Homo sapiens: one gene and its partner. The gene in region 1 interacts genetically with each later gene. Each region holds a gene or a part of one and is shown on either strand. Other genes may lie near its edges.

The links. Genes that interact genetically often act in the same process or in processes that back each other up.
Region 2: changes in BOD1L1 (region 1) and PDCD7 together harm fitness more than expected from each alone (negative genetic interaction), as found in Homo sapiens cells (one large-scale study listed by BioGRID).

Annotation. Positions count from the first base shown.
Region 1 is NC_000004.12:13,570,985-13,576,585, reverse strand, and holds part of BOD1L1 (biorientation of chromosomes in cell division protein 1-like 1), read left to right. Parts: intron 1-3,743; coding exon of another isoform or gene 3,744-3,884; intron 3,885-5,601. UniProt on the Homo sapiens protein: Component of the fork protection machinery required to protect stalled/damaged replication forks from uncontrolled DNA2-dependent resection.
Region 2 is NC_000015.10:65,122,856-65,128,456, reverse strand, and holds part of PDCD7 (programmed cell death protein 7), read left to right. Parts: intron 1-5,601. UniProt on the Homo sapiens protein: Promotes apoptosis when overexpressed.

The DNA of each region.
Region 1 (5,601 bases):
CTTACAAATATATTTTTTGAGCATCTGCCATCCTTCAGATGTCGTATTGAGCACCATTCATGAATATGGACATACATAAAACATCATCCCTGCTCTCAGCATACTTAATTCAACCCAGAAAGCAGGAGGAACCAGGCCCACGCACCGTCATCACATGCATCTCACCAGTGCTATGCAATAGGTTGATCATAGGAAAGTGCCCAAATTTGACCATTTTTGAGGTAATTTCATATATTTCCCAAAATGTGTTCTCTCAAACCCTATTGTAGCCAGAAACCTCTGAGAAAAAGAGTACCACGGTCAGATGAGTTTGGGAATGTCATTGAATTCTCTCTCCTTCCTCAGTTACATGTTCATTAAAATATTAAGGGTTTGGCAAACTCCAGGGCTGGGCGCGGTGACTCACGCCTGTAATCCCAGCACTTTGGGAGGCCAAGGCAGGCGAATCACGAGGTCCGGAGATCGAGACCATCCTGGTCAACATGGTGAAACCCCGTCTCTACTAAAATACAAAAATCAGCCAGGCATGGTGGTGAGTGCCTGTAATCCCAGCTACTCGGGAGGCTGAGGCAGGGGAATTGCTTAACCGTGGGAGGCGGAGGTTGCAGTGAGCTGAGATGGCTCCACTGCACTCCAGCCTGGTGTTAGAGCAAGACTCCATCTCAAAAAAAAAAAAAAAAAAAAAAAAAAGGGTTTGGCAAACTCCTAAAGGAAAGAAGCCTGTTGAACTTTGTTTAAACAAGCATTATTTGCTGATACCACTTTTCTGTTGTTGGCCTATATCATTATACCTGTTCACATCATCCAGTGTTCCTTTCCCCATGGCACATTTGAGAAATGGTACATAACTGTATTGTCTCATCCTAACCGTTAATCACTTTCCCAAACATGAATATTTTCCAGGCTGAGCACGGTAGCTCATGCTTGTAATCCCAACACTTTGGGAGACCAAGATGGGAGGATCACTTGAGCCCAGGAGTTTATGAGACCAGCCTGGGCAACACAGGGAGACCCCATCTCTACAAAAAAATTAGAAAATTAGCTGGGCATGGTGGCATGCACCTGTAGTCCCGGCTACTTGGGAGGCTGAGATGGGAGGATCGCTTGAGCCCAGGAGCTTGAGGCTGCAGTGAGCTGTGATCGCACCACTGCACTCTAGCCTGGGTGACAGTGAGACTCTGTCTCTGAAAAAATATATATTTTTTTAATTTTTAATTAATGTGATTTACAAGCTATTAATCTTGGTATCATCTTGTTTAATTTCATTATTCAAGATTGATCAAAAAGTTCAGGAAGATTTATTTCAAAAATAACACTAACAGCATAATATAATAGTATCTTGTGTTTACATAAAGAACTAAAATCGGGGCTGGGCACAGTGGCTCACACCTGTAATCCCAGCACTTTGGGAGGCTGAGGCCGGCGGATCACGAGGTCAGGAGTTCGAGACCAGCCTGGCCAATATGGTGAAACCCCATCTCTACTAAAAATATAAAAAATTAGCTGGGTGTGGTGGCACGTGCCAGTAATCCCAGCTACTTGGGAAGCTGAGGCAGGAGAATCGCTTGAACTCGGGAGGTGGAGGTTGCAGTGAGCCGAGATCACGCCATTGCACTCCAGCCTGGGTGACAGAGTGAGACTCCCCGTCTCAAAAAAAAAAAACAAAAAAAAACAAAAACTTAAAATCAATCTGTTTCTAATTCCTCCAGACTTAACACAGTATTAGCCATTTGTGCCATGGTTTGATTTCTCAAAGAATCAGATTTTAGAGCCAAAGGACTCTAGAAGCTCACACGGCTAAAGTTATAAGGTGGTCTCATATTTGTTTTTTTAGGTGGAGCAGCTCACATAAATAGAAAAGAAGTCACAGAATCCAAATTGCTGCTGCTAGGAGAGGGTGAGGGTGCTGGAGCCCAACACCCATGCATTTGGGTATAGCATCCATCCCACCAGAATTACTGCTTCCCTTTAAAACAGTTGTGGAAAGTAGGGCTCAACTCAGAGAAAGTTCCATAGGCCTTCTAGCCATCTTCGAGTGAGTGTCTAGAAATTGCTCTCAGATTTGCCTTTTATAAATTCTTTAAAAATAAATCTTATTTGATTTATATGGTTCTGTAATCACCTGGATTATCAAAGCTCTTCCTTCATGCACTTTATAATATAAACTTTTGATTTACAAATGAGTTGTTTTCTCTCTAGTTTAGATTCCTTGGCATTGGTTGATCAGTCCCAGGGCTCTGGTGTCTTCATAATTTTACAAATTGTCTGAGTTGGGTGGGCTCTCAGTGGTCATGTAGTACCAATAGCCAGTCAGTGCCTGAGTCACTGCACCTGCAGCTCCTCTGAAAGGGTCTTCCTGCTTTTGCATGGACCTCAGTGGCAGGGAAAGCCACATCCTCCTTAGCATTCTCTGACTTGTGTTCAGTAGAAGCCGGCCTCCCTGTGGCTTCTACTCTTGATTCTAGTTCGACTTTCAGAACCTTCTGTCTAATTTTGCCTTACATATTTGAGGGCAGCTTCCAGGTCTTCTCTGCTTGCTTATTGAGCCCCTTCATCATCCCTGTTTGTGCTCATCAGTTACCTTTATCCTCTTTTAGAAGCAAATGTGCAGCTGGGCGCAGTGGCTCATGCCTGTAATCCCAGCTACTCAGGAGGCTGAGGCAGGAAGATTGCTTGAGGCTGGGAGTTCGAGACCAGCCTAAGCAACATAGCAAGACCCTCTTAAAAGAAAAAATTAAATTAAATTAATAAAATATAAAAGAGGCCACGCACAGTGGCTCACGCCTGTAATCCCAGCACTTTGGGAGTCCAAGGCTGGTGGCTCACTTAAGGCCGGGTGTTCAAGACCAGCCTTGCCAATATGGTGAAACCTCATCTCTACTAAAAGTACAAAAAGTAGCCGAGCATTGTGGCAGACTCCTGTAATCCTAGCTACTTGGGCAGCTGAGGCAGGAGAATTGCTTGAACCCGGGAAGTGGAGGTTGCAGTGAGAAGAGATTGTACCACTGCACTCCAGCCTGGGTGACAGAGCGAGGCTCTTTCTCAAAAGAAAGAAAGAAAGAAAGATAGATAGATAGAGGCTCTTTCTCAAAAGAAAGAAAGAAAGAAAGAAAGATAGATAGATAGATAGATAGATAGATAGACAGACAGACAGACAGACAGACAGATAGATAGAAGCAAACTCTGTATACCAAGTGTGGTCTAATGAATCCAGAAGAGGACTGTTCTACCTTATTTTCTGGATATTGTTCTTCAGTGTGCATCCTCATTACTGAGCCTCAAATTGAAAAATACACCAGCTAAACAAGTTCCTTTTTCAGAGTTTTTACTGGAATCAGAATTCCTTATCTGATTCTTGTGCAGTTGACTACTTGGGCCTTAACACTTAGCCTTGTGAATTGTACTTTCGTTAATCTTGGCCCTTTATTCTACCCTGATGAGCTCTTTTGTAATCTTTATTTTGTCGGCCAGTATATTTTCTATTTTTCGCAGATACATCTTTTTTCTAAATCACAATAAAATATCATGCACAGTAAGAACAAAGATAGTGTCACACAAGCAGAGGTAGTTGTAGATGACATTAAGATCGACTTATCAGCAGTGGTCAGGAAAACCAACCATTTTTCTGATTTTAGTTCCTATTGTTCTGACTTGCCCACAAGGAGCCTCATACTTCCTACAGAGTTCCAGGGACTGGAGTATTCAGTGCTACCATTGCCCAGTGTTTCTATAATCTGTTTCAGAAAGCAACATAGCAAGCCATCTGCACGTGCAACATCCAAACTTGGCAGCCCAGACACAGTTTCTCCTAGAAATCGCCAAAAATTAGCAAAAGAGAAGTTACCTACCAGCGAAAAAGTTAGTAACTCTCCCCCATTAGGAAGGTAAGTCCCTGCTTACACTTCAAGCCATTTTTAACCCCCTAAGACTATTTTTGGTACAATAATGCTTTCTTCCTAATTTCCTTTAAGATTTTGTCTCACCAAATAACTGTTTTTGGGGATCATTGGTTTCCAAGAAGAACAGGAAGGGCTGCAGAAGGTGTCTGTGTGGCCTCACCAGTCTGGCCTTGCCGCAGTGGACTGCCACACAGGCTTGTCCTTGACACCTGTGAGCCTTATCTGCCTTCTCCCATCCACCAAGACCAAAGGCAAGGCAGTGTGGTAAAGCATTTAACAGCCCAGAATCATTTCTGTTTTAGCTAGAGCATTGGAGAGGTGATGAGGTGATAAAGCTTCCTCTTTCAGGCACGGCCCCTGCCAGCTTACACCTTTCACTGCAGCCTTACTGGTCTTACTGCTTCCCAGAGGTGGTCCTGAGCCTTCCTTTCTTGCCTTTGCTTGAGCCAGTGAGGAGTGTCCTCACCACCAGCACCCCTAGTAAGTCAGATCCTTTCCGTCCCGCTTCAGCCCATTTTCATCTCTTCTTGCTGCACTTCTGGTCAGTACTGGGCACTTGAGATGCCACATAGCATTGGTTTGGTATATTCCTTTTATTTACCCCTCTGAGCTCTAGGTTTCTTTCTTGAGATAGGAATTTGTCATACTTTCTATACATTATCATATTCAAAAATAAAAGACTCTTCACTGTACACAAAAACTGTTTTGACCTCTTACCACATTTTCATCTTCACAGCATACTTGTATGTATGTGCTGTTTTCCGCACATTCTAGAAACGAAAGCAAACTATAGTGCCAGGCAGTTTCACATACATGCTCTCATTTAACCCTCAGTGAGTGAATTGTAATAGTTACTCTTATTTTATATGTGAGGGAAAGAATCTCAGGAAGGTTTCCATGCATACTACTCAAAATTGAACATGCAGTCAAATCACTTGAGGCTGTTGGTAAAATGCAGATCCTGGGTCTGTAAGTCTAGGCTGGGGCCTGAGAGTTGGCATTTCCAACAAGCTCCTCAGTGACCAATGCCCCTCCTCACAGACCACATTCTGGGTGGACTAGAAGGGCCTGGATAAACTACGAAGCTCACATGGCTGGGGAGAAGCAGCCTGACTCAGAGCTTCTGTTGGCTGCCACTTGGCCCCCAGCACAATACTGCGCACGGCACCTTTACTGAAGAGGTGTTCATTGAGTGGCTGGTGGCTTTCCATGGAAACAGTTTGAAATGGATTATCAACAAACACATTTTCAGTCATTGTCAACACATGTCAAAACCACATCATCTGCAACAATTTTTGACTCAGTTTATTTACTTTTGCTGTCAAACAAGAAACGGAAGACGTGTCTTCATATCACTAAGAGTCCCATTTCTCCATCTCCTGCAATTTTGGTTTTCCAACTCTTTGATTCATTGACAGGACATTTACTGCCCGCTTGCCATGTGTTGGGCATTGCACTAGGCACTGGAGTTAGAAAAATGAATAAATCTCAGCAGCTGCCCTAGAGAATCATCGTGTCTAATGGGGGAGATATATGTGTATAAGACTTTCAAACTTTTTTGGCAACAACCCACTATAAGAATATTTTGCAATACAGCTGGTGCTCACATTCCTGCTGCTGTAACTGAAACAAAATTTCATGAGTCAAATTTAATAGATGTGATATGAGTGGTATTTTCTGTTGTGTCCTATTAACATGTTGT
Region 2 (5,601 bases), on another chromosome or scaffold:
ACCATGCTGGCTTTCTAGAAGTTACCCAATTGTGCTTTCCATTTGCCTGTCTGGATCTTAGCTGTTGTCATTCTGTTCATCTGGAGGGCCCTCAGTCCCATCTTTGCCATTTTAAGATCTCACTATTCAAAACCAAATACACATGCAGCATCCTTCATCCTTCCCTGATCTGGGCTGAGGTAACCTCCTGTTGCTTCTCACTTGCACCTGCTTTGGACCACATGCTGATTTATTTAGTAGATTGTAGGCCTTTGGTATTCACCAGAGATATTTGAGAGTGTACAAATTAGCAAATGCCACTCTAACAAATGATTTCCCATGTGTTGTTTAAAATGTAAATGAAAACTGGGATTCTTTTAGACCCTTAAGAAAGTTGTGTTGGAATATGACCATTTTGTATTCACCCAGGCTCGTTTGCTAGCTAAGTGATTGGCTTTTGCATACTAGCCTTCAGAGCGGCTAATTCACATCCAGACCTCAGAAACAGATGCCTCCATTGTGGTACTCTCAGGGCATTTGTAAATCAGAGGGAAGTTAGCATCTGCTTTGTCTACCCATCTCTTTTTCACTAGAAGGCAAAACCTGAGAGCTATTTAATATTCCCACACCTCACATCCTCTATGAGGTGAGTGCTCAGTAAACTTCTGCCAAGTGAATTTACCAGCATTTCCCAATATTAATCTTCCTCACTTTGGTCCAAAAGGAGGAGGAAATTTTAGGAAAATCATTATCTATAGAAATAAACAGACTTTGTGGCATTAAGTGACTTGAATGTAAAATGATTTGGTAAGTAGCAGCTGGTTGCATGCATATTTAAAATGAGCAGCTAACTTCTCTCTTCAAGATGTGTGCACCTCCAACTAAGTGCTGAATGATGAGGCTGGATGTTTAAGCAGGACCACGTTGCAAATTGTCTTATGGGCTATGCTAGAGTTCTCACTTATACTTAAAGCTTTGGGGAACCGCTGAAAGTTTTTTTTTTTTTTTTTTTTTGAGACGGAGTCTCGCTCTGTCGCCCAGGCCGGACTGCGGACTGCAGTGGCGCAATCTCGGCTCACTGCAAGCTCCGCTTCCCGGGTTCACGCCATTCTCCTGCCTCAGCCTCCCGAGTAGCTGGGACTACAGGCGCCCACCACCGCGCCCGGCTAATTTTTTGTATTTTTAGTAGAGACGGGGTTTCACCTTGTTAGCCAGGATGGTCTCGATCTCCTGACCTCATGATCCACCTGCCTCGGCCTCCCAAAGTGCTGGGATTACAGGCGTGAGCCACCACGCCTGGCCCCGCTGAAAGTTTTTAAGTGAAATGATGGCAAAGATCAGTGCCAGTAGAGCAGAGAAAGTTTTGGAGCATCCAGGAGAGAGAGAGAAGGGCAGAGAGATGGGTAAGGCTATTGGGCACGGGTAGTATGGAAGCATAAGCTGAGTGACGTCAGTGTGTAGGAGAATTGAGAGGTAATGAGTAATTCAAGTGATAGTGAATAATTGAGTAATTCAGAATTATTAGTGAATAATTCTCAAGTCAAAGAATTGAGAGATAATGAATAAAGGTATATGTGTATATACCCATGTACATATAAATAAATAATTTAAGGAACTCAGAGTACAGGAACTAAAGGGAAAAACAATGAAATGTCTTCCAGATTCTAGCCTCATCTACTGAATAAGTGAAGATAGCTTTTTTTTTTTGCTTTTTTTTTTTTTAAAAGACAGGGTCTTGCACTGTCGCCCAAGCCGAAGTGCAGTGGTGCAATCATAATTCACTGCAGCCTTATACTCCCAGGCAGGAGCGATCCTCCCACCTCAGCCTCCTGAGTAGTAGAGACTACAGGTGCACACCACCACACCTGGCTAATTTTTAAATTTTTTGTAGAGATAGAGTTTCGCCATGTTGCCCAAGCTGGTCTCGAACTCCTGGGCTCAAGCGATTCTCCCATCTTGGCCTCCCAAAGTTCTAGGATTAAGGGTGTGAGCCACTGTGCCTGGCCGATACCATTCTAATTAAGAAGGAAAACAAGGGAGGAGGAACAGGTTTAGGGTTGACAAGTTCAGTTGGGGACCTGTCGAGTTTGAGGTGTGTGTGGTACATCCTGGATAAGAGTTCATTAGCATGTAGCCATGAGTCAGAATGACCTTAAGGAGATTGTACAGCATGAGATGAGGGCCAAAAAGACAAAATCATAGGGAATGTCAAAATCAAGGTAGAAGATGAAGAGAGCAAAAAAGAGACCAAGAGAGGTCAGAGAGATGGGAGGAAAAGATAGACTCCCTGCTTCCTTCTGGAAAGTGGCAAGTGCTTAGAGAGAGATTGTGTAGTCTTGGTGATATGGTTTGGCTGTGTCCCCACCCAAATCTCATCTTGAATTGTAGCTCCCATAATTCCCACATGTCGTCGGAGGGACTTGGTGGGAGGTAATTGAATCATGGGGACAGGTCTTTCACATGCTGTTCTTGTGATCATAAGTCTCATGAGATCTGATGGATTTATAAAGGAGAGTTTCCTTGCACACGCCCTCTTTACCTGTCACCATGTAAGATATAACTTTGCTCCTCCTTCACCTTCCGCCATGATTGTGAAGCCTCCCCAGCCATGTAGAACTGTGAGTCAATTAAACCTCTTTTATAAATTACCCAATTTCAGGTATATCTTTATTGGCAGCGTGAGAATAGATTAATACACTTGGACAGGTTACTTGAGCTTCTCTGAACCTTTGTTTCCTCATCTGCAAAAAGGGAGTAATGATAGTACCTACCCATGGGGTGTCGTGAGGATTAAATTAATAAATATGTGTAAAGTACTTAAAACAGTCCTGGCACATAGTAAATGCTATATACATGTTTCATATTATTATTCTTTTTATTATCAAGAAATAAGGAACATCCATGGGAATTAGTATCCAACCGGTCATTAGTGACCTATGCTAGGGGCATTTCAGTGGAGTGGTGGGGGTAGAAGCCAGACTACAGTTGGTTAGAGAATGAATATGATACAAGAAAAGCAAACAGATAATTCAACTTATTAAAAGATTGCCTGTGAAGAAAAGGAAAGAGCAACATCAGTATCTGGCAAGGTGTGTGGTAGTGGTGATGGTGAGGGGTGTTGTGTGTCTTTGGGTCATGGGGAAAACTTAAGCATGGTTAAAATTGCTGAGAGGAGTGAGTAGAAGGGGAAGGGTCAAAGAGAAGCAGGAAGAATAGTTGATGGCTCAAGGTCCCATGGAAGGTAGGATGATTCAGATCCCAGGTGGAGGGATTAACTTAAGTGAAGAAGGACCCATCTTACACAAGCATGAAAATGAAGGAGATGAAGATAGGTAGTGATGCACATGAGTGTGTAAATGGGGACAGATATTTGAGGGATTTCCTGTCTGCTGGCCTGTTTTCTCTGGGAAACAGGGTAAATGGTTTGCTGAGCGCCAGTAGACAAGTGGGGCTTTAGGAGAGCAGTGAAGGTTTGATTTAATTGCTGTGAAGAATGGGTGAGAGCCAACAGAGACTTGTGGAAGATGGTTGCAGGGGGTGCTATGGGTCCAGCTGACATATATTGGCAATGGATGACACAATCAAATGACCTCTTCCAGTAGTACTGTAGCTGACAGGTGAGCACAGAGCACGGGGCTGTTGGGGTTTTGCTTTGTGGGGTGACCATTAGTTTTGTGGCGAAGGAGTAGCAGAAGGATAGAATCTGATACATCAGGTCCGGAGGTTTTGATGAAGCTGCCAAATGGGTCTCTGGGGAGAAGGAAGTAAAAGTACTATAAGGGAGAAAGTTGTAGTTGGATAAGAGAATAATCAAGTTTAAGATTTAAGAGGCAGAAAGTTTTTTCTGATAATGCCAAGGTCCACAGACTGAACAGGACTGCAGGCATGTGGCTAAAGGGGAATAGAGGCAAAGGCATTGGTGTCTAGGAGCTGCAGGACTAGGTGGACAGTGAGTGGTAGAAGTGGAGGGAACCTAGATGGTGCCAGGAGGAAGACTGTGTGAGAAGTGCTGTTTCTTTTTCTTTTTCTTTCTTTCTTTCTTTTTTTTTTTTGAGACGGAGTTTCACTCTTGTTGCCCCTGTTGGAGTGCAGTGGTGCAATCTCGGCTCACTGCAACCTCCACCTCCCAGGTTCAAGCGATTCTCCTGCCTCAGCCTCCAGAGTAGCTGAGATTACAGGCATGCACCACCACACCCAGCTAATTTTTGTATTTTTTTTAGTAGAGATGGGGTTTCACCACGTTGGTCAGGCTGGTCTCAAACTCCTGACCTCAGGTAATCTACCCGCCTCAGCCTCCCAAAGTGTTGGGATTACAGGTGTGAGCCACCACTCCCGCCCCAGGAGTGCCATTTCTGAGGGAATATGTTACATTGACCAGGGAGTGATCAGTGAGGGGCCGAGAGAGATGTGGGTTGGTGGCCCAGGCTCAGCAGCCTACATCTCTTCATGGGGTCTTTAGGCTAACATAGGATGATGGAGTATCTGTGTATTTCGCCATAGACAGATTTTAGTAGTTGCAACAGAGACTGTATGGCTTACAAAATCTAAAATATTTACCTGTAAAGGTAAAGAAATGAAACAAAACCGTTAGATTATTATAAAACAGAGTGACAGCTTAAATTTGTCAGTGTATAAGAATTTTGTGTATACTTGAAAAACACTGGCCTGGCAACTTAGTAGAAGATAAATTTGAGTTGTAGTGTTTCTGTAGTTGAGAATGAGTGAATGGAAACCTGTAGAAGCAAAGCAGTTAGGAGAAAATCATCTAGAGAAATGTTAGCCTTGAGAGTGAGTTCCACAACCACTTAGCTGTAGTGGTTGAAGGAGGAAAGAATCCTACCTCCAAATTACAACTTTACAAGAAACAGAACTACTAACCTTGAGAAACCATTATTTATGCCATTTATCAGCCCAAACTGAAAATTTAGTGCTCAAAGCTGGCACTATTGTATAACACAAGTTGCAGCATAAATTGTTAAAACCCTGTTGAAGGGCCGGGCATGGTGGCTCATGCCTGTAATCCCAGCACTTTGGGAGGCCGAGGTGGGAGGATCATGAGGTCAGGAGATCAAGATTATCCTGGCCAACATGGTGAAACACTGTCTCTACTAAAAATACAGAAATTAGCTGGGAATGGTGGCACATGCCTGTAATCCCAGCTACTCGGGAGGCTGAGGCAGGAGAATCGCTTGAACCCAGGAATCAGAGGTTACAGTGAGGTGAGATCGCGCCACTGTACTCCAGCCTGGTGACAGAGCGAGACTCCGTCTCAAAACAAAACAAACAAAAAAACCTTGTTGAAAATCATTCATTCATTGAAGAAGTATCTATTAATTACCTTCTCTGTGTCAAGTGTTTGGTAACTGAGCAAATATATAGCTTTTTTAGGAAGCAGTTTAGAACACAGTTTGTTAGTCTTGAAAGTATTCACAAACATTTCCATTTTTGAGAATTTTTCTTTCTTTTTTTTTTTTTGAGACAGAGTTTCACTCTTGTTGCCCAGGCTGGAGTGCCGTGGTGCGATCTCGGCTCACTGTAAGCCCCGCTTTCTGGTTTCAAGCGATTCTCCTGCCTCAGCCTCCTGAGTAGCTGGGATTACAGGCACCTGCCACCACGCCCGGC